Linked DNA regions of Homo sapiens. The protein of the gene in region 1 purifies or fractionates together with the protein of each later gene. This does not show direct contact. Each region holds a gene or a part of one and is shown in the gene's direction. Other genes may lie near its edges.

Region 1 (7,736 bases):
CATTACTTCCATAGAGTTGTAAAATAATCCTTAATATTAGAATATTTTTCTGTCACTTAGCAAAAGTGGTTCAGTTCATTGCCGCGCCCATCATGTTCTTGACTATTTGATCCACTTTTTCGTTTATGTCAACCCCTTCCCTCTCTGGCTAAATAAAGTGGATGCAGAAAGCTCCTTAAATGGAGATATCGATTGCCTTGGAATCACAATCCTGATTTTGAAAATTCCTCATGAATGAAGAAAGGAATGGCATCCCTTGAGAAGGAAAGTGGTTAATATACATACTGAGCTCCTAAAGTTTAAATTCAGGTACTGAGTGTACAATTTCACCAACATTCTAACCCATGAAACTTTTACACTCTGTGCCAAGAAACTGTTGGCTTTTGTAAGGTACAGTGCTCAACATTTGCAGATTCAGGTCTCAAGAAGCAGAGATGTCTCATAAGCAGCATTTTCCCAACAGTTTAGCATCTGTACACATCTGCCTTGGTCATCAGTCCACTCACAGAGTACCATACTTTATCATCACAAGTGTCTGACGTGAACGAATGCCATTTTCTATTCCATATATTTTGCTTTACAATTTTAAGTATTTGATGAAGATGGTAACTTTTTCCTAACTTAGTTAACTATTAAAAAAAATTTTGAAAAGCAAGGTGATTGAAGGATTGTGATGACAATCTCTTTGCAGCAGCTATGTATGGTTTATGTGAAGTATCCCCACTTATTCTTGTGGAGCAGGTTTGGTGAGACAGCAATAACCAAATGACATGCCAATATTACTGGTGCAACTGGTATTCTACAAATGCATAAGGAACACATAGACGACTTCCTTTTAGGATAAAATGATGCTTCTTTCACTACCTTTTGTGGTAGCTGTGGCTTCCAATAGCAACTGTTTGACAGTTATATAAATCTTGCATGTGTATTCTTAGTTTGTGTCCCTTAAGTACTACTTAATTCTCAAGTAGTAATGTTATTCTTATACCCTTCAGCGTTCTATTTTGATTCAAAACAATTGATTCAAAACAATTTTGAATCAATTTTCTATTTTGATTCAAAACAATTGATAATTCTGTAAAAAAACATAAACACTGAATTCTTCAGTGAACCAAAGCAACAAATAATAGAGAAAACTTCTTGAAACTGGAGTGTGGGAAAACTTCTTAACAGAACTAAGAGTTAAAGGTAGTGAGAAGTGTGTGGTGTGTGAATTCTTTAGTGGTAAGGGGAAATGTGGGCTAAATCCTTTTCTTTCATGAAACTCTCATTCTATTTTATATTTCTGGTTTGTTCTTGTTCCCATGTGAGAAAACATACAGTTTCTGAAAATTCAAAATGGTCATCAATGCTTTGGACTTTACATAATTATGTATTAGAGAAGGTGCAACTGTACATTACTTAATATACTATGAACATAATAGAATAACAAAAAAAGATAACAAAGAGATGCAAACTTCTGGATAAATCAGATAAATGGTGCTACAGAGGAATTTAGTTATTTCAGCTTAATTATTTGTAAAAATAATAATCAGTGACTAGGTAAAGATACTGAAACTCAAGAAAAATATCTTGACCCATTTATGTCTAGTGTTCCATTATTGGAACGCTAAGCTTATGGGAGTTATTTAGAGCCTACTGCTCAAGGTCATCACCAAGGTCTGGTTGCAAAAATTCAAAAAATTGCAACCTCAGGCATAAATGGCTTAAGCCCAAGAGATGGCACTGACCATAAATGGTGGCTTGTGTGTGAAGGGTTTGGACTTCAAGATATACTAACACCTAGAAAACTAAAAGTGCAATTGACCCCCAATTACTATTTTAGTTTGAGGTATCAAGGGCATTTGCCAATCTCTTATATGTAGCTTCTAGAGTTGTGCTGTCCAATATTATATCCACTAGCCAACGTGGCTTTTGAAATTAAAATTAATTAAAATTAAATTAAAAATGTAATTCTTCAGTCACACCAGCCACATTTCAAAGGCTCAATAGCCACGCCTGGCTTGTGGCTACCATATTGGATAACAAGAAACACTTCCGTGGTTGAAGAAAATTTTAATGGACAATGCTGTGTTTCATTTGAATTCGTTGTCCTTGAAGAAAAGGGAAGAAGAGGAAAGAAACAAGATTTGGTAGCTCTTGGGCATATCCAAGCATTTTTGATTTTAGAGAGGCCCTATGGAGTAATGAAAAAAATACAAGCTGACACAGCTTTAAATCCCCACTGTGTTATCTTGGGAAAATCACTTCAACCTCCTTGAGTCTCAATTTGCAATTTTGGAAAAGAAAAACAATTTTTGTCCTGTCTTTCTTGCAAGATTATTATGCAACCTGATTAAATGTACAGATGTGCAGACTCTTAAAAACCTTATGTTAATGTAACCCATATAAAGTACGACTTTTGGTCGAGTACCAGCACAAATTTGCATTCAAAGGAAGAATAGTTCATCAGTGCAAAAAGCGTTCAAAGGTAATCAGTTCATCACGTATCTTGAGAAAAAGAGAATGCATTCAAAACACAAAGCAAAATTGCTTCAGTTTCTTTTCTGCCCATCTGAATATTTCCTTTAGTATTTGTCCCACATGACATCCATCCCATGTATTTATCCACTCTTTCACAACATTGCCTATGAACATCCTTCAACTGGCTCAGTTCTTTATTGCATAGAGCCACTTAGCTTCTCTAGTTTCTTATGATTTCCTATTTTACACTTAACAGCAAAAGGAGGCTTCCATTTAGAAGGCACTATCTCAAACATAAATAATTTCATATTTATTTTATCACTGTAACACTAAGGAGCTATGGCATTAAAATATAAAACTATTTGGAACTTAATGTAAACCTTTGCACATGCAGACTATATAAAGGGAATAAAATTATTTTAAATTATGCTAATATCCAGATACATATTCTAAGGTTAGTATCATTTATCAGTTTTTCGCAACAGATTCTTATGTTACATCTTCATGAGGGAGTATAAATTTGATCACGTCCCTAGTGTCTATTGCCCACTTGAGAAAGGTTTTGCCAGGATCCACAGATCGCTTCAAGATGCTTTCGTTTATGATAGGAAATTAATATTTAAATAAGACTAATTGAAAACTAGATTATCTGGTTCTAATTTCTTCCTCCTGTGAAATGTTCTTTTGGTTTGTATTTCTTTAGGTATTTTCCAAGTTACTGCTGCTTTTACTTCACGACCTCCAACCCCACTTTTGTTATCAGCGTCATATGCCAGAGTCATGGCAGATCCAGCCTGGACAACATAGTGAGACCCATCTCTATCAAATATACATATATATATATATATATACACACACACACACACACACACAAATATACATATATATCAAATATATATGTATATTTGATAGAGATGATAGCAATTATGTGTGTGTGTGTGTGTGTGTGTGTGTGTGTGTTAGCCAAGTGTGGTTTCTCATGCCTGTAGTCCCAGCTACTTTGGAGGCTGAAGTGTAAGAGTTGCTTGAGCCCATGAGTTAGAGGCTGCTGTGAGCTATGATCATGCCACTGCACTCCAGCCTGGGCAACAGAGCAAAACCCCATCTCTAAATAAAAAAAAAGAATCGTGAGACATCATGTAATCCAACCTCTTAATGTTACAGATAAGTAAACTGAGGCCCAAAGAGATATAGTAATAGTCCCAGTGTCAGTAAACTGGGTCTTGAACTTAAATGTTTGTTTCAGTTCTCATTGCCTTCATCTCTTAATTGTCGGCACTTAAGGCCAACCAAGCAGCTTAGACAGCGCAGTCCACTCAACGGTAACTTTATTTGCTATATTGACAATCTGCTCTGTTCTGTAATATAGAACATTGGATCAATCTTTATCTTTTTGCTGACTTAAGGAGGCTGCTATTGTTGCAATATCCAGAGATTTCAAGTTCTAGCCATTGCGGGGTCTTTGTGGTGTTTTCAATTTCTCCTCTCTCCACCCCTGCCCCCATCTGTGGCCATCTAAGTTAGCAATACAATTTATTTTGGCCATTTAAAATTTTTCTGCCTTTGTTTTATTTCTTCCCAAATATATTTGAAAATGAATGATCTATATAGCTGATTTTCTGACCACATATATAATTGCAATTTTTATTTGCTCTTCAAACTATTACAACATTTTTGTCCTTATAAGGTTTTTTGGGCAGATAATGCGAGGTCTGTGGTGTTACCTTTTATATACTCCTATTACCTTATGTTTGTGAAGCATTTTACATTTTACAGAGCACTTTGATTCATCTCCCTATTTGTTCATTTATTTAACTGTTCAGTTCACTGAAATATTTATTGAACACCTACTGGAACCAAGTGACTGTGCTAGTAACTTGTGATATACAGTAGTGAGAGTCCAGGCATGTAACCGATCATTATAATACAATAACATCCCTAAACCAGACTTTACAAGTAGATAGGATCAACAATACTCTATCAATTTTCAACTCCAATTTTCTATTCTACTTAAAATGGGAACTAGAAACTGTTTGCCTGAAGAATGTGTCTGAAACATAATATATCACTGCATGTCTGTGCTGTAGACCTGTTAATTTTATCTGTGAGAAAAAAAGTTACTCAAAATTCTCCCTGACCTAAGAATACTTTCTAGTTCACTGCAGTCTTACTGACCAGATGCAACAGTTGAAGTTTGATTTCTCGACCCAATATTTCTATTGGGTTTTGAATTATTAATATCACTGTTTTGAGGTATTCAGAAACACCAGTGTATCAAAAAAGCATTTGCACTTTAGGTGTGTGTGGTGGTTATGTCATTTATTAGACCATCCCAGACATAAGACAATCAGGGAAATCAGAAAACTCCAGCCTCAAATGTGTCTATAATTTCCTGTTCTACCATTGTCATATCATAACATGGTATTACTTCTTAAGGTTTTGATTAAGTTGATCTAGCCTCAACTTAAATTGTAATACATCTGCCTAATTATTGTCTGGAATAACTTTTCAACCATCCAATGCCCACTGCTCTCACAATGATTATTGTAGAGAAGTAAAATGGTAATTATTCAAGTAAAGTCACATAATTTCTGGAGTCAGTTTTTCATAACAAGTTTATGGAATACATCATCATTGGCTTCTTCATAATATATTTATTATGAGTGACCAAATTTTGCCTGGAGGAGCAAAATGCTCAAAACTTGTTATTATAGGTTAATTTCCAGCTCACTGTTGACACTGAAAGATTCTGTGTTACTTTAAACCCAGGATAAAAGGCTGGAAAAAAAATTAAATGTAAGTCATAAACTAGTACTCAGCTTTTCCTAGTTTCTAAGGCTTATTAACATTTGCAAATTACTCAATAAATGTCTTTCATAATGGAATAACATAAAAGCTTTTGATTTGGCAGATAGTGATATTTTATTTATTTTCATTCTGGTTGAAAAAAATCTCAGTGGCTTCTCTTCATTCCACGAGAATTTTGATTTTTAACAGCAGTCTCTCTTTTTCTCAGCATTGCAAATATATATGTATATATACATTCATGACCAAAGTATCGCTTACTGACCATGCAGCTGTAAACCTTCTGTGCCTATCAAACAAATACATAGCATGAAACTAATTTTAGAAGTTTCATGGGGGAATTTTAGGGGAAAGTATAAACCTAAGAGTGAGTGAATGGAGATGATTCATGGAAAAAAAAATAAAAATCTAAATGTGCTATTAGGCAGAGTTATTAACTTCTTTTAGTTGTTGTTTGAGATGGGGTTTTGCTCTTGTTACCCAGGCTGGAGTGCAATGGCGTGATCTCGTCTCACTGCAACCTCCGCCTCCCAGGTTCAAGCGATTCTCCTGCCTCAGCCGCCCAAGTAGCTGGGATTACAGGCATATGCCACTACAGCCGGCTAATTTTGTATTTTTAGTAGAGACGGGGTTTCTCCATGCTGGTCAGGCTGGTCCCCAGCTCCCGACCTCAGGTGATCCGCCCACCTCCGCCTCCCAAAGTGCTGGAATTACAGGCCTGAGCCACCGTGCCTGGCCGAGTTATTAACTTCTTAAGAGCAATGTGCTAATAAATACTCATTGATGACCAGCTCAAATTTAGGTCATTCAGACATCCAGACACTGGGGCACATATTCTGCAAGCAATGCTGAGACCCCTGACATAGAGAAAGCAAAGGATATGCCTATGATTAGTCTAAAATGCAGCCATCACCCCCCATACCTCTTCTATGGCATTCATCCTAACATCATGGAGGCCTTTGTCCTAGAGAATTATGTGACTTGCCCTAGAGAATTAGTGAATGACCAAAAAGAGACTTTCCATTTATCTTCCTTTGACTTAAAAGGCATGAAAATAAGGCAAAAAAATCAATAAAATAATTTTCCTGAGGAAAGGTTAAGAGATGGCACTTTCCTTTCCGGGCCCAGAGCTGGATTTCTCTGAGATTTGACCATCTCAGGACTCAGACAGACTCCAGTGCTATTTTCTGGACATTTGTGGTGAAGCCTCAGCCACCATGTTCAAGGTGGTTTGAATGAAAACATACTCAGATTGTCACATTTATAGCAGGGAAATAAAAACTCAAATTAGGCATCCTGCAGCAGGCTACTCTGAAAATAACATTAGGCAACATCAGAGCTTCACTTGCAAAGAAATGTTAAAATCATTTTAGGGAAATCAGTGAAGTCTCTTTAGAAACAGACATCTTGTGTATGGCGTAACCCAGTCTTGGGGCCCTCACGGAGAAGAGGGGGAAGTCTTTTCATTGATTGGTCAAAACAAATCTCTCATTTGCCTGATTTGAAGCATTTCAACAGTGCCTGGAGAGTACATTATTTTCAGGGGAAAAAAAGGAGAGAGTCTTTTTTATATGCCAGCTGGGATCATGGGAACTTCGAATGCCAGGAATTTACTACTGTTTCTGGTAATTCTGTGTGTAGTCATTTGAAATGTTGAAGTGTGAAAAGAGAAGAAATTGGGCACTTCTTGCGGCGGGGGAGGGGGGGGGGGCGGTGGCTTTCCAGATTTTATGCCAGTTGCACCAGCATGCAGAATATTTGTAATGCATTTCAAAGTGGATATAATGGCACCCTTTGTCAGAATCACAAAGCTCACTGCGGCACTGCTACAAGAGGACACTGAGGAAAATCTGGCCCTATGAACCTAGTCAACCCCAAGCAAAAAGAATGACTATGTGTGTGAGTGCAGCACATGGCCAGTTCGTTTCTCACTGTTTTGGAAAGCCCTGTGTGCCAAACCAAGGACGTGTCTTTCAGGGAAAGGTTAATTTTCCGAAGTTTATTAAAATAGAACTTGGAAAACCAAGCATTTTGAATTTATTCCAGTCCTCTGGGCATCATTCCTATTTCTTCTGCCATGTCAAGGAGAAATTCCAAGCCTGCATTCTGTCATGCTAAAATAACCAGCCCATACTTCTCGGTGACCTTCTGTTGAACGTACCTGAGCCTGCAAATGTAAAAATGATTGTATCTGAATCTGCACTAATGGTGTCTGAGAGCAAAAAGAGTGTGACCTCTATTGGAAACCTTTGTTCAAATTCAATAATTCAGAGATGCTACATACTTCTGCAAGCTTCCTGATTATGTTCACTGTAATATTAATGACCTAAGTTTGAATGTATTTCCTTACAGTCCATTAATTTGACATCCATCTTTTACCTGGGGATTATTACAATTGCAATAAGTCATTAATGTTTTCTTCACACAGCTTCTTAAACCAAGTTTCTCTGCAGCTCTTTCGGTTCTGC
Region 2 (8,114 bases), on another chromosome or scaffold:
TGGGTGTGGCCTGTCCCCTCCGCGTTGGCACACTGGCGGCTTCCACTCAGTGAGTTAACTTGGTGGGCTGCCCCTGACACAGGCTGGCCCTGCTACCCACATCTGCCTGCTGAAGAGCTCATATGACCCTCACTCTTGAGGGGACGTTAGCATCAAATCTCTCTCTCTGTTAACCCCCACACTGACTCCAGGCCCAAGCACGTCCCACAGCCATCAGGTCCCCACCCAAAGGGATCCCATGGGCTTTGCCCTGCAGACTTGGCCTGACCACTCAGAGGCAGGCGGGGCCATGACACAGACGGTTTATTCAGACCTCTCCACCCGCCACAGTTCCACATCCCAGTTCAGCAGGCCATTCTGTGACAGTTCCTACTGGTGGGTCTGTCTATGACAGCCCCATCCTGAGTTCCAAGTCCATGTCCTGACTGAGTGGTGAGTGTGCTCACTCGGTGCTCAGGAAGACTCTCTTGCGTGCGGTATTGGTGTAAGGGTGCCAGCGCCACTCCACGTCTGCTGTGGCCTCCTGCTCCAGCGTGCCCAGACGGATCATGTACACTGCAGGCAGGGATGGCATCAGCCCCGGCACAGCCAGCCTCCCCTCCCCACCCCAGACACGGGATTCAGCCTCAAACTCACGCTTCAGCTCAAAGCGGGGCCCGACCTCAGTGAGCTCCACGTTGCGGTGGTCTGTCTTCTTATACACATGGTGCCTGGGAGGGAACAGCTGTGGGTCAACGGCAAGCAGCACGAGGTACACAGGGTGGGGATGCTTTCCTGGGGCATGGCCCGTGGACCCACCGGAATGATATGTAGTCGTCCTGGTTTGCGAAGGTGATGACCCGGTGGCTGTCATCTTTGGGCACGGGAAATAGGTATCGGAGGATGTCAGAGACCTGGGGCACAAGGAAAGAGAGGGAAACAGAGTGGCAAATGCCTGGCCTGGCCCGCAGCCCCAGCCTGAAGGCCCCCAGACTCACCCGCTTGCCCAGGCGGGAGGAGAAGCCGTGTGTGATGAGGTGGGGCTTGGCCTCCGACATGGTGCCCAGGTCTGGGATGTCATGCCGCATGACCACATTGCACAGCGTGAAGTAGGCAGTAGGACCAAAGGGCAGGTGGCTGACGATGAGCCCCACTGGCGGGGAAAGGTGGCTGTCAGAGACCCCGTCTGCCCTCAGACGGCTCCCACCCCGACTCCCTCCCTCCGGCCTTACCAGGTGTGCCCCGATGCTCGTGAACGACCAGCAGATCGGTGACGCCGTTGGCTTTGCAGGCTCGCACCAGTGCCCCCACTTCATGTCGACCTCGGTTCATTCGCTGGGCGCCCGGGAACACCAGCTTCAGCTCCTGGGCGTGGATGGCAGTGTACAGTCAGGACTGGGGCTGTGTGTCCTGGGTGTCTCTCCCTCACTCCCTGCTCACCAGTACCTTTGCAAACATCTTGAGGCGGGAACTGGGGTCTCGGGAGGTAGTGATCATAACCTTGGGATCCTCGACTCCTGCCCATCGGTATTCATCATCCACGTGGCTGGTCACACCTGTCAGGAGCACGAGGGGCAAGAACATGACAGTCTTGGGAATGAAATGCTAACTTCGGGGCAGCCAAGACCGCCTGGATGTCGCTGTCTGCCGAAGCCTTCAACAATAGGAATGCTCCACATGCACACCGGGCAAGAGGGCAGCCTCCAACTACTCTGGCTGCTGAGCACAAGCGTGGCTGAGAAACAGAATCTTTTGTTTAATTGTAGTTTGCTTAAGCTATATTAGTCACATGGGGCTAAGCAGCTACTCCATTACACAACGAAATCCACACTCTGCTAAGGCCAACGGTGACAAACTCTTTTCCCTCGTAACAAATATCTATAATGTTTGGGATTCCTTTCTTGTTTCTTGAATAATGCAGTGAATAAACGTATGGGCACCAATAATGTGTGAGGGACACTGTCTTTCCCCAGCAGGCACTCCAGTGGGGGAGGTAATTAACAAGCCAGGTGCAGAGTCAGTGAGGCACTCCCATGTGTGCCATGTAAGTGGGACAGGGCACACTCAGGGAGAGCCCTGCAATGCCATCTGTGCAGTGACAAGGGCATGGGGGACAGTTCCAGGAGCAGTTTCCTCTGATGGGATGGTGCCCGGTGTGTCTGAGGAAGGACTGGAGACCTGCCAGCTCAGTGTTGGGGAGGGCTACCTTGTATAGTTACCTTCACCTCCAGCATCATCAAACTCCAGGGACCCCTGTAAGGCCAGAGCCTCTCGGCGTAACTCAGTGGGAATCAGGCGGTTTTCTGCAGAGGGAAGAGAGAGGGGCTGAGTGAGTCACAAGCATGGAGACCTCAGCTCATCCAATACACCACAGCTTATTAGCCTGCACATGCTTGAAATAAAAATACCTCAGCCCTTTCTGAGCTTGGATAAAGCATGGATAGAGGTGACAAAACTTTCTACAGGCCAACCCCCATAAACAGTGGTTACTAGGACTTCATTTTCTTTAGTCTCATGACTTGAGGACTTTCTAAAATATCTTAATGTACTGTATTGCTTTTATAATCAGGTAGAAATCTAAACATCGATTTTTTTTTTTTTTGAGACGGAGTCTCGCTCTGTCACCCAGGCAGAGCAGTGCAGTGGTGCCATCTCGGCTCACTGCAAGCTCCGCTTCCTGGGTTCACGCCATTCTCCTGCCTCAGGCTGGCGAGTAGCTGGGACTACAGGAGCCCGCCACGGCGCCCGGCTAATTTTTTATATTTTTAGTAGAGACGGGGTTTCACCGTGTTAGCCAGGATGGTCTCGATCTCCTGACCTCGTGATCCACCCGCTTCGGCCTCCCAAAGTGCTGGGATTACAGGCGTGAGCCACAGCGCTCGGCCTTAAAAATTACTTTTGAAAAGAAATATAGACTGTTCTGTACGTATGATGGTGGACCAGAGACCTTTAAGCTCTCAGACAGCAAAACCGTTGGTCACGATGCCCACAGCGCTTCGAAGGCATGGCTTCAGCGGGCCCTGGACCACAGGCTGCCTACCGCAGAGCACAGCGCTCCAGGTGCGCACTCGGGGCCAGCACTGTTCCCCACGGAGCTCAGAGGAACTCCTGCAGGGAGGATGGGCAGCGCAGTCTGCAGCACCAGCGCTATCCAGATAGTCTTTAGAGAGAATTTCTTTTTTTTTTTTTTTTTGAGACGGAGTCTTGCTTTTTTGCCCAGGCTGGAGTGCAGTGGCAGGATCTCGGCTCACTGCAACCTCCGCCTCCCGGGTTCAAGCGATTCTCCTGCCTCAGCCTCCTGAGTAGCTGGGATTACAGGCGCGTGCCACCACGGCCGGCTAATTTTTGTATGTTTAGTAGAGACGAGATTTCACCATGTTGGTCAGGCTCGAACTCCTGACCTCATGATCCGCCCGCCTCGGCCTCCCAAAGTGCTGGGATTACAGCAGTGAGCCACCGCTCTAAAGAGAATTTCTACAGGACAAGATAAAGTCTTTAAAACTTGGGACGAACTTGACACACTGCACACAGCGGGCAAGCTGCAAAACCCGGGTACTGCAACGTCAGTGACAAGTAATTAATACCATCACACGGAAGAAACACTCTCAAAACCAACAGGAGAACCCAATGGGCAAGGAAAACGGCCGGCAAGCATTTGGAAAGACGCTCGGATATTCGAACACAAATGCGTGCCGGGGTGGTTTACCACGCAGACGCCCGCGGGGCCGATGCCTTACCTTCCAGCGCGCGCCGCAGCCGCTCCTTCCTCTCCTGGGCTGAGCGCTGCGCCTCCTCCCGGGCCTTGCGGTACAGGTACTCGCGGCGCAGGCGGGCCTCGCGGCGCAGCTGTGGGAACAGCAGGCCCAGTCACTCACTACTCGCTCCCGAGCCCCGGAACCCCGGAGCCCCGGAGCCGCTGAGCCTCCAAGTCCCCAGAGCCACATCCCCAGCACTTCACGCGCCCCGGACCTCCGAAACAGGAGCTCATTCTCCTACCATCTTGAGTGCCGCTTCCACGTGGGTCCGGGAGAATCTGTGGGCTCCTCCAGCGCGACACAGTCCTCACTTCCGCCCTCAACCAAGATGGTCCCTTAGACGCTTCACTGGTGCCTGCAGCTGTGGGGAATGCCCTATGTTAAGATGGCGAATAGGGCGGGGACATCTCAAGGCGATTGGCCATTCCGGCAGGGCGTTCTCCTTGGGATAACCGATAGACTGGATACAGAATGTCACACGTGACTTAGGACCGCAGCTAATAAATATGTCCGCCCAGGCTTCTCCATCCTCGTCCTCCCCCCACCACCGCCGTGCAGAATGCAGTTTTCAGATGACGAACCGCTAAAACAATCATAATTAGCGGCTGGAAACAGTTCAACTGTAAAAACCGCACACCGACTGAAGGTTGCTTGCCGGCTCCTTTCCAAATTAACTTTAAAACCACTCTTCCCTCAACCAAAATGGTTTCTGTAGAGCTTCGCCTTCTTCCATCGCCACAACAGTGGCGCGACTTCTAAGATTCGGCAGCTTCCGGAAGGACTCAGAACCACCTATAACCCTAGCCGACAGTTCAGCAGGCTGATCCACTTGGGGGCTAATTGGAGAAACCAGTTGATTGGTTGCTTCCGTGCTGCTTCTCTAAGGGCGCTTGCCCTTAAAGAAGCTGACCCAGAGGCCTTGGTGCTGCCGGCGTGGGGATCCCCAGATGGGAACGCCCCTTGATGGAGGATCTCGTGTGCCTATTGGCTGTCCTGCCAAACTGCGGAGGGTGACAAGGAAGAAGGTGGCTCCAGATCTGGAGGTGTGTCCATGGCGGCGCTTGACCTGCGAGCGGAGCTGGATTCGCTGGTCCTGCAGCTGCTTGGGGACCTGGAGGAGCTGGAGGGGAAACGAACGGTGTTGAACGCCCGGGTGGAGGAGGTAGGCGCCTGGGGCGGGCAGGAGGGTACACGGGCGTAAACTGAGTCTCACCGCTTTCCTCTCCCTGCAGGGCTGGCTCTCGCTCGCCAAGGCTCGCTACGCGATGGGCGCCAAGTCGGTAGGGCCCCTGCAGTATGCTTCCCACATGGAGCCCCAGGTCTGCCTCCACGCCAGGTGAGGAAGCTTCCATGCTGGGCTGGGTGGGCGGGCGGGCGCGTTCTAGGCCCGGGCTGCCAAAGCTCCATCCTCCCTTCTCGTCCTTCAGCGAGGCCCAGGAGGGACTCCAGAAGTTCAAGGTGGTGAGAGCTGGTGTCCACGCCCCAGAGGAGGTGGGGCCTCGCGAAGCAGGTGAGCCCCCTCTTCCTTCTGCAGAACCCCTTCCCAGTGTCAAAGACAAAATGCAAATTATGGAGATGATTTAAATTAGGTTTTTGCGATAAGAGAGAGCATCCCAGAGCAGAAGAACAGAATGTTTTTGTAGGGTGGTTTTGCCTTAGACTTTTATAGGAAGTAGAGAAATTGTTGGTGAGTTGCTTTACACTGGGAATAGATTTACAATCACATACATTTCAGTCAGCTGAACAGAAAATATTTATCTGTGTGTCTAGCTAGTTTCAGAGGGACAAACTTCTAATCCCAGTTAATCATCCTGAGACAAAGAATGGGGAGTTGGAACGTCTATGTCTGGTCTGTTGGCATGTTCAGGTACAATGGGTAAGATCAGTGTCACAGGCAAACAGGGTCATCAGTGGGTCTTACAGGAGTCACGGGAAAGAGTGGACAAACAGTCTCATCTGAATCACAAGGGGAAAGGCTGTGTTTTGTGGTAAGCTGTTTCCTGGAACCCCAAAGTTGGAATTTTCCAACCAACAGTGTTTTATAGAATCATGAGCTCAGATCAAGCTCAACATTGTCACCAAGATGATAAAGGTCAGGGAGTAAGATCCCAGCCTCCTCCAACCTTTCTTTCCTCAGGTCTGCGGAGGCGCAAGGGCCCCACTAAGACCCCAGAACCGGAGTCCTCTGAGGCCCCTCAGGACCCCCTGAACTGGTTTGGAATCCTAGTTCCTCACAGTCTACGTCAGGCTCAAGCAAGCTTCCGGGATGGTGAGTGGACCGTGTTGTTTGGCTCTGTGGCCCTCAGACCCTCTATCCACAGGGAACACTTGAGCACTGCTGCCATGGCTGGGGTTAGTCTGTGAAAGGCTTTGCAGGTTTTCCTCCATCCAAACTTCCGTTGTACACCCATTATTTTTTCCAAAAGCATTTACTGGTTGTTGGCAGCATTCGGGTTCATGCTAGCTGCTGGGGATACAGCAGGGAACAAAAGAGACAAACACTTTTCATGTAATGTTTAGAAGCAGACAAAGGCAACGTGCAAATAAGTAGGCCCTTAACATAAGTCAGGCTGTGAAAATTGTTATGAAAAACACATAATGGAGTGGGACAGGAGTGGGCCAGGGGAGGTCTCTCTGAGGAGGTGAAGGAAAAGCTTTGTGGGTGATTTTGGGGAACAGTGCTCTAGATGGAGGAACCAGCCAGGACAAAAGCCCTGAAGCCAGATATATCTGGTATGTGCCGAGGCCGGTGGCCTAGAGTGGAGTCAGGTGATGTAAGCCCTGATGAAGACTGTGGGACCCACAGAGAGGCTCTGAGCAGAGGATGGTGCAACTGGCTGTACAGGGTCACAGGAATGCTTGGGTGCTGGGCGGGGACACAGAGCAGAGGGAGGAAGTAGGTGTCAGGGAGCAGCCAGTGTGAGAAGCAGATAGCGTCACTGGAGGAGGAGGTAAGTGGTGGGAACCTGCACAGGTTTTAAGAATAGAAGCCCCAGAATTTGCTGACAGATAAGATATGGGAGTAAGGGAAGGAAAGGAGTCCAGGAGAGCCTGCGGTCTCCACCCAGAACCCCTGGGAGGATGGAGCGACCCTCACCTGCTGTGGGCAGCTGAGAGGATTCCAGAAGGCAGGAGTTGGTGTGGTCTGTGTGGTATCCACCGACGCCCTGCTGGAGAGTCTGAGTGGGCACTTGGGCACATGTATCTGGAGTTTGGGAGAGGCCTGGGCTGGAGAGAGATTTGGGAGTCCACTGCATAGCACTGGTGTTTAAATTCCAAAGTTTTTGACACAAACACTGGTTTAAAGCTGAGATAGGATGAGATCAGCAGAGGGCCTGGGGAGTATGGACGGGAGGTGAGGGAGAAGAGGGGAGAAGCCAGTCAAGGAAACTGAGGAGCAACACCTGGGGGCAGGTGTCCTGGAGGCCAAGAAGAGAAAGTGTTTCCTGGAGCGAGTGATCCAATGTGTGGTCAGCCCTGCTGCTGAACAGGAGGCCGAAGACGAGAGCTGCCCGGAGGACTGGGCAGCAGCTGTTCCAGCAGAGACATCAGCAAAAGCCATCTAGAGGTGGATCCAGAGTGTGGACTAACAGAGAAAAGAAGTGGAGGGAGAGCAGGTGAGGGCAGAGAGATGCTGTAATAATGGGGGAAGGAAGGAAATGAGGGCATGAAATGGTATTACTATCTGTGAATTTTTAGTTCCTGGTGGGTGATATAATGGGTCCAGGAAGTCTAAGGAGGTGACATTTTAGCAAAGACCTGAAGGAGGTGTAAGGCCTCAGAGGTTCTGGAGCAGCCAATGCAGGGCCGTACCTGGAATGTTTTGGGACAAGTGTGGGGGGCAGAGAGGCCTGAAGCCTTTCCAATTTCTGGGGATATCCAGATCCTCCTGGGTCGTGTGTTACACTACAGATACCATGGTGACCTTCTCTCCTTTCCTCCAGGCCTGCAGCTGGCCGCAGACATAGCCAGCCTCCAGAACCGCATTGACTGGGGTCGAAGCCAGCTCCGGGGACTCCAAGAGAAACTCAAGCAGCTGGAGCCTGGGGCTGCCTGACATGCGCGCAAAGAGGCAGGGCAGCGAGCACAGCTGTTCTCCGACATGGCTACGTGATCTCAGGCCTTCTTCCTTCACAATTAGCTCTTGCCCCTACCCCACGCCAGCTAATGCCCCTTCTGTGTCCCTGCTCTGCATGTTTCCATTTTCCTTAGGTGTGAAGTTTGAAGAGGCAAACAGTAATTTTGAAAGCCACTACTTTGAAACCATTCTAAGGCCTGAGTTCCCATAGGACACACTCACATAGGCAGGTACACGTTAGTCAACAATTGGAACTGCCTCTTGGATCACTCAGCTGTGCTTTCATGGCTGGATGATGGAAC
Region 3 (7,368 bases), on another chromosome or scaffold:
CTTAATAATAAATACATTTTTGAAAAGTCTTTTTACTTACTCTTTATATTTAGTGTTTAATGCACTACAAGTTGACTATTACTGTTTATCTATATAGCATCAAATAGTAAATATAGATCTTATGCTGGAAATGTCAACCTCCCTGGCAGCTGTAACGCCCATCATTGAAAGGGAAAGCGGAGGACACCATTATGTTAATATGACTTTACCTGTCGATGCAGTTATATCTGTTGCTCCAGAAGAAACATGGGGAAAGTAAGTATTTTTATAGTACCACTGCCACATTTGAATGAGGGCCCTTCCCCAAACCCATGTTTGTATATCCTGTAGGTATACCTAAGGTGTGATTTTCTCCTTGTTTATTATTAACCTAAGAGCCATCTATTAATTAAATGGTTATTTGGAGGAAGTAGGGTAGCATGCTAAAACCTGGAGGATTTCCCTTTATCCACAAAGAGCAAATACACAGTTTCTTTTATAATGTATAATTCAGACTTCCTTTAGCAAACCTGGTCCAATCAAGTTTTTTACTATACTAAGGATATATTAGCTCTGTACTTTTCTTTATTGTAGTCACTATAACTTTTGTTAATACACTTATATATTTCCCCCCACAGAGTTCGTAAACTCCTGGTTGATGCAATTCATAATCAACTAACTGACATGGAAAAATGTATTTTGAAATATATGAAAGGAACATCTATTGTGGTCCCTGAACCACTGCACTTTTTATTACCAGGGAAAAAAAATCTTGTAACAATTTCATATCCTTCAGGAATACCAGATGGCCAGCTGCAGGCCTATAGGAAGGTAAAACCAGTTCATCTATTCTTAGAAAAAACAATAATGACTATCATTCATTTTGTATTTAATTATATATTTCCACTAAATGGAAGGTATTTTGTGATTTAACTTAAAAGTGTGGAATTTAGACTATTCATTTTACACATTATTTAATTTCTGTTCTCATGAAACTTTAAGTAGTATTAATGACAAAATGTTATGTTGAACCTATATGTAACATTTTAATTTTAAATGCTCGGTGTGGTTCATATATTCTGTGAAATTTTAATATTTTTCCATAATGAAATATAGAAATGGTGCTTACATGCCTAAAGTTGCTGGTATTAACAGATTTCTATAACTTTCCGATTTGTGAAAGAGACAAGATTACAGTTAGGGAAGGAAAATGATAACTTATGCTAATTCTGAATAGGATTTATGGTAATACTCCACAAGTAAGGTTATTTGGGCTTTATTAGAGGAATTTTGGAGAAAACATGACCAGCATTCAAAGTAATGAGATTTACTCATGACTGGTTTTGGAGTGCATCTTTTTGATATGTGGACTCGCTTAGAACCTATCAAATTAGACCGTGGAGCATCTTCCTAATTTCTGTCCTTAGGGAGAGCGAGAATACCCTGACCCTCTGTATGTGGAGGTGACTTGGTTTGTAGAAGCAATAGCTACAGGAGCTGATCTTTTAAAACCACTGGAGTACAAGATATGATAAAGAACATGTCAAACTTTTTAAAATACCTATTACATGTTTTTATATAGTTGGGAAAATAACACATTTTAAACATATATGTGTATTTGTTTTCCTGCCATATTGGTTGGCTTTAGACCACTAACTTCTACTCTGTAGTTTAATCACTACCACTTACAATATAAAATATTTGTAAGGCACTCGACACAATTTTGCAAAATACTTTGATATAATTATTGTTAATTATAATTTACTCATTTACAAGGCTATTTCAAAACCAGTCTTTAGCCTGGATGTATTTTAACAGACTATGTTGTAATAAATAATTATTTAAAAATTAGTTCTCTTACTCTAACAATTTATATTCATTTTTCTCTGTTCCCTTCCAGTTTCTACCCAGATACAGACGTAAACGAAAATAAATCTTACTTGGTTTTAGTTCAGTTTTCACCATCTTTGATGTTAGTGAATTAAACCATAAGTGTTTGGAAACTTTTATAACCTATATATAATTTTCCATGTTTAATAACATCTTTATTTATTGACTAGGAATCTAAATCACCAACATTTTTTCTTTTTCTGTTGATTCTGATTTATTTTAGGAGTTACATGATCTTTTCAATCTGCCTCACGACAGACCCTATTTCAAAAGGTCTAATGCTTATCACTTTCCAGATGAGCCATACAAAGATGGTTACATTAGAAATCCACATACTTACCTTAATCCACCTAACATGGAGACTGGTATGGTGAGTTTAACTAATTATTTATGGGAGTCACTGGATCAGTAATGTTATTAGTTGTTTTTTGTTGGTACCCAGTAGGAGACTTGATTCATTATGTATTCATTCCTAAAACATGATTTATCACCCATCTCTGTTAACAGACATTGCTTAAGATAGCAGTAATTAAAAATGGTCTAGAAAAGTTAGTAATAGGTAGATATACCACATTTATCTTACTAAAATTCTCTTATTTCTTTAAAGGCTTGTCCCATTTTTTTTCATTCTGAACCTGAGAAATCATGCTAATTAAGGGCATAGTCTACCCAAACCACACTGTAGGATAAATCTTTTTTTGTTTTTTTGAGACAGAGTCTCGCTCTGTCACTCAGGCTGTAGTGCAATGGTGTGATCTCAGCTCACTGCAACCTCCGCCTCCTGGGTTCAAGCAATTCTCCTGCCTCAGTCTCCTGAGCAGCTGGGGTTACAGGCACCTGCCACCACACCTGGCTAATTTTTGTATTTTTAGTAGAGACAGGGTTTCACCATGTTGGCCAGTAGCTAGGGTTACAGGCACCTGCCACCACACCTGGCTAGTTTTTGTATTTTTAGTAGAGACAGGATTTCACCATGTTGGCCAGGCTGGTCGTGAACTCCTGACCTCAAGTGATCCGCCATGTAGGCCTCCCAAAGTGCTGGGATTACAGGCATGATTCACCATGCCCAGCCACTGTAGGATAAGTCTAATGAGGAACTAGACTTATTTTCCATGTAACATATACCCGGTTGCCAGGGATAGATCCTCCCTAAAGGTAGCTCAAATAAGAGTGAATTGGCGGAGGGTGGTGGAAGGGTTACTTTAAGGATACATGGAGGCCAGTGAGAAAGGACCTTATAAGGCATCCAAGATTAGGAATACCAATAGAGCTGGGCCTCTTAGAAACAGCAGCCCTGTGACTAGCAGGTGTCTTCAGTCTCTCTCAAGGACTCCGTGGATACCTTGGTGGCATTGCTATTGCTTTCTGTGTATGCTTGTGATCCTAACTGGCCTGTTCTTAACTTTTACTCTGTCTGCTCCACCTCATACCCTCTGTATCCTCACTGTTTCAGCTTGTGTGTCACTTTTTCCTGTTCTTCCTCAGCTGCCCAGTGTATGCCTCATTCCAACTGCATTTCCTGCTCCTGGCTGCCTGGCTAACTCTGCACCTCTCAGTTCAGATTCCCAAGAGAAAGAAAACTTGGCTATCGTATGGTGGCATTTATTAATACCTTCTGAGCGTCCAGGACTTTTGAGGAAATCTTAAGAATTAAAAAAATGCATATACGATACAGTACGTACCCTAGATGAGTTAGGGGCCCACTTGTGGTCTTGGTCATTAGAGTGTACTCAGGGCAGCAGATCATCTGCAAAAGCTGTGGGCCAACCAGCTTCCATAGAAAGTTCCTCACAAAAAGAATAGTTCCTTAGAAGAACCTGGACACACAGAAGGTATTGAATGAGTACTGATTGCTTTTTGACAATAAAATAGGTTCATTATATCTGTATTACAAGGTCGTAAGAAAAATATATACTTTACATATTTATCATGTAATATTTGATATGTACATATAACATATGCAAATTGTAAAGCACAGTGGGGAAATGAATACCAGGGAGCTCCTCCCTAATTTAAGAAGCAAAACTTTACCAGTCTGTGCTCTTTCCCTACCCACTCCTCTGCCTCCTCGACACAGTTCCAGGAGGAACTATTATGGGTTTTGTGTTCATCATTTCCTTCCTTTTTAAAAAGTAGTTTCAGCGTATATGTTACATATCAATCTCAGCAATGTCGCTTTTAGTATTGCATAGTTCTGAGTTTTATAAATATGGTATCATTCTGTACGTAGTCTCTGCAGCTTGCTTTTTCACTCAATATTACATATCAAACATCTCTGGTATTTTGTCTAACCATAGTTAATTATCTTTATGATTTTTTCCAAGTTTTTTTGCTGTTTAGACAATGAACATTCCTATACCTCTCGATACATATGTGCAACAGTTGTTAACATTTTGCTATATCTGCTTCATTTCTCCCTCTTTTTTCCCCCTCTGAACCATTTCAAGGAAAATTATAGATATATTATTTACCCTTAAATACTTTGGCACAAATCTCTCAACAATATAGATGTGCATTCATGAAATAAACTCGGTTTGGTTATGACTCATTATTTTTTATTCCCCTCTGGATTCCATTTGCTAATATTTTACGATTTTTGCATCTATGTTCGTGAATGATACTGGCTTATAATTTTCTTCTCTCATACTGTTCTTATTTTGTTTTTTTATTAGTGATATACTGGTTTACTAAATTAGTTAGGTTAATGTTCCTTTTTTAGTTTTTTAGAGAAGTTTATATAAGAGTGGTATGATCTTTCCTTGGTCATTTGGTAAAACTTGCCTGTAAAACAATTTTGGCGTAGCATTTTCTTTGTGAGAAGATTTTTAGTAACCAATTTAGTTTTGGTAACAGCTTTAGGACTTTTTGATTTTTATAAGTTATTTACCTAGGTTTTAATATATCTTGTAGTCATAATATTTTCTTTTTCATTCTTCATATCATTTTTATGCCTTGTGTCTTTTAAAAAAAAAAAAACTTTTGGCTTTGTTGGCCCCCTCTATTATAACTTCTGTATTTGATTTTATTAATTTTTGCTCTTTACTTTCTTTTTTTTTGCTCTTTCTTTGATTTATTGTCTTTCTTCTAACTTCTTAAGTTGGACATGTTAGCTTATTGCTAATATTTCTTTCTTTCTTTTTTTTTTTTTTTGAGATGGAGTCTTGCTCTGTTGCCCAGGCTGGAGTGCAGTGGCACAATCTTGGCTCACTGCAACCTCCGCCTCCTGGGTTCCAGCGATTATCCTCCCTCAGCCTCCCAAGTAGCTGGGATTACAGGAGGGTGCTACCACGCCTAGCTCATTTTTGTATTTTTTAGTAGAGATGGGGTTTCACCGTATTGGCCAGGCTGGTCTCAAACTCCTGACCTCGTGATCTGCCTGCCTCAGCCTCCCAAAGTGCTGGGATTACAGGCGTGAGCCACTGCGCCCGGCCTAATCTTTCTTTTTTTTGAGATGGAGTCTTGCTCGGTTGCCCAGGCTAGAGTGCAGTGGCATGATCTCAGCTCACTGCAACCTCTGCCTCCCTGGTTCAGGCAATTCTCCTGCCTCAGCCTCCCCAGTAGCTAGGATTACTGGCAATAGCCATACGCCTGGCTAATTTTTGTATTTTTAGTAGAGACAGGGTTTCATCATGCTGGCCAGGCTGGTCTCGAACTCCTGACTTTAGGTGATCTACCCACTCGGCCTCCCAAAGTGCTGGGATTACAGGCATGAGCCACCGTGCCTGGACAGCTTTCTTATTTTCTAATGTAAGCTTTTAAATTTCAAGCAAAGCACTGCTTTTAGTGTATCTTATAGGTTTAATTTGAAGGATTTTAGTTTTGTTCACTTCTAAGTATTTTTATATTTTTCTATTATGGTTTTTCTTTTGTCCATGTATTATTTAGAAGTGTTTGTTAATGTCCAAATATGTCAGAATTTATTTTTCTTTTTTGCTTTTTTTTTCTTCTTGTTTTAACTGGTTTCTGACTCTTGCCTCCTGGTCAGAAAGAATTCTAAGTGAAACTAACTCTGAAATTTATTGAAACTTGTATTTGTTCCCTAAAAAATAATAACATATTTGATGGCTTAAAACTACAAAAATGTATTGTCTCAGTTCTGGAGTTCTGAAAGTAGTATCACTGGGCTGACATCACAATGTCAGCAGGACCACCTTCCCTCCATAGGCTCTTGGGGAGAATCCATTCCTTAATCTGATGGCTGCCAGCATCCTTTGGTTTGTGGCCCCATCATTCCGATCTCTGCCTCCTCAGTCACATTACCTTCTCCTCCTATGCCCCTCTCTTTTAAGAATATATGTGATTGCATTTAGGGCACACTAGGATCCAGGATAACCTCCCCATCTTAAGATCCTTAATCACGTCTATGAATACCTTTGCTTTCCTTTTTTCTTTTACTTTTTGGCACAGAGGGTGCATTCACAAGTTCCAGGGATTAGGACATACATACCTTTTGGGAGCCACTTTTCAGCCTGTCACAATGGTCAAGTTATAAATTTTTCTATCTGTGCTTGGGCAGAATATATATTCTCTAATTGTTGGGTGAGGGTTGGTTCTATCTTGTCCCTATCTCCTCTCACTTAATTTTTTAAAAATATCATCAGTTTGGAGCCAGGCATGGTGGTGTGCAACTGTAATCCCAGCTACTCAGGAGGCTGAGGCAGGAGGATCACTTGAGCCTAGAAGTTCAAGACCAACCTGAGCAACATAGTGTGACCCAATCTCAAAAAAATAAAAACAAAAACCCAGTTCTTTAATAAAAAAAGACATATACATTCTTAGCACTATAAGTAAGAATTTATATGATATTAGTAATTTATTTATCTTTATTTTTTGACCCTTAACTTAGCGTCATCAAATAACATACTTGGGCTGTAATCATAGCAGGTTTATAAATTTAGACACATTCTTCCTGTGTCCCATGATATGGACCCTTCATTTGTTTGTTCATTCCTTTATTCCTTCCTTCATTCATTCAGCATTTATTCAGCAGCATTTATATTAACCGTGTGCCAGGCGTGTTGTAGAAGCTTGGGCCCAAAAATGGATAAGACACAGTGTATGTACTCACTGAGCTCACATATTAGTGTAAGTAGGCAGATATTTTTTAAATGATAAGTAATGTATCATTTAAAGTATATCAAGTCATGATATACTTTGAAAAATAAAAACATAAAGAGGACAGAGATGACAGGTGAGGCAGGGGGTGGGGTAGTGAGAGAATGAGTGGGCCGTTTGTAGACTGGATGGTCAAGGAAGACCTTTGACATCTAAATGGAAACCTGAGTGAAGTAAGAGTGCAAGCTGTACAATTAATTTGGGAAAAGAGAGTTCCAGGCCAAGAGAACCATGAGGCTCCAAGGTCATATTGCCCCTGGTATATGGGAACCGAAAGTAGAGGGAGCAATAGGGAAAAGTTTAGGAGATGAAATTGGAGAGGAGGCCAGAAGGTAGGTCCTGCTGGGCCCTGTGGTAAGGACTTTGAACCTCAAATAAAAAGCC

What was found.
Region 2: the proteins of PLXDC2 (region 1) and VMA22 purify together in Homo sapiens (affinity purification with mass spectrometry; 2 studies listed by BioGRID and IntAct, with this or other methods). This does not show direct contact.
Region 3: the proteins of PLXDC2 (region 1) and UFSP2 purify together in Homo sapiens (co-immunoprecipitation; 3 studies listed by BioGRID and IntAct, with this or other methods). This does not show direct contact.

The regions. Positions count from the first base shown.
Region 1 is NC_000010.11:20,281,018-20,288,753, forward strand, and holds part of PLXDC2 (plexin domain-containing protein 2 isoform 1 precursor), read left to right. Parts: 3' UTR 1-7,736. UniProt on the Homo sapiens protein: May play a role in tumor angiogenesis.
Region 2 is NC_000002.12:130,338,797-130,346,910, reverse strand, and holds the start of VMA22 (vacuolar ATPase assembly protein VMA22), read left to right. Parts: upstream 1-4,777; 5' UTR 4,778-4,785; coding exon 4,786-4,896; intron 4,897-4,966; coding exon 4,967-5,070; intron 5,071-5,161; coding exon 5,162-5,244; intron 5,245-5,871; coding exon 5,872-6,003; intron 6,004-7,148; exon of another isoform or gene 7,149-7,351; intron 7,352-7,678; coding exon 7,679-7,791; 3' UTR 7,792-8,114. Other genes in the region: U3 small nucleolar ribonucleoprotein protein IMP4, read right to left, coding at 443-555, 637-710, 799-1,132, 1,212-1,344, 1,426-1,535, 2,199-2,282, 3,717-3,825, 3,976-3,978. UniProt on the Homo sapiens protein: Accessory component of the proton-transporting vacuolar (V)-ATPase protein pump involved in intracellular iron homeostasis.
Region 3 is NC_000004.12:185,408,597-185,415,964, reverse strand, and holds part of UFSP2 (ufm1-specific protease 2), read left to right. Parts: intron 1-97; coding exon 98-255; intron 256-617; coding exon 618-810; intron 811-2,092; coding exon 2,093-2,239; intron 2,240-3,551; exon of another isoform or gene 3,552-7,368. UniProt on the Homo sapiens protein: Thiol-dependent isopeptidase that specifically cleaves UFM1, a ubiquitin-like modifier protein, from conjugated proteins, such as CD274/PD-L1, CYB5R3, DDRGK1, MRE11, RPL26/uL24, TRIP4 and RPL26/uL24.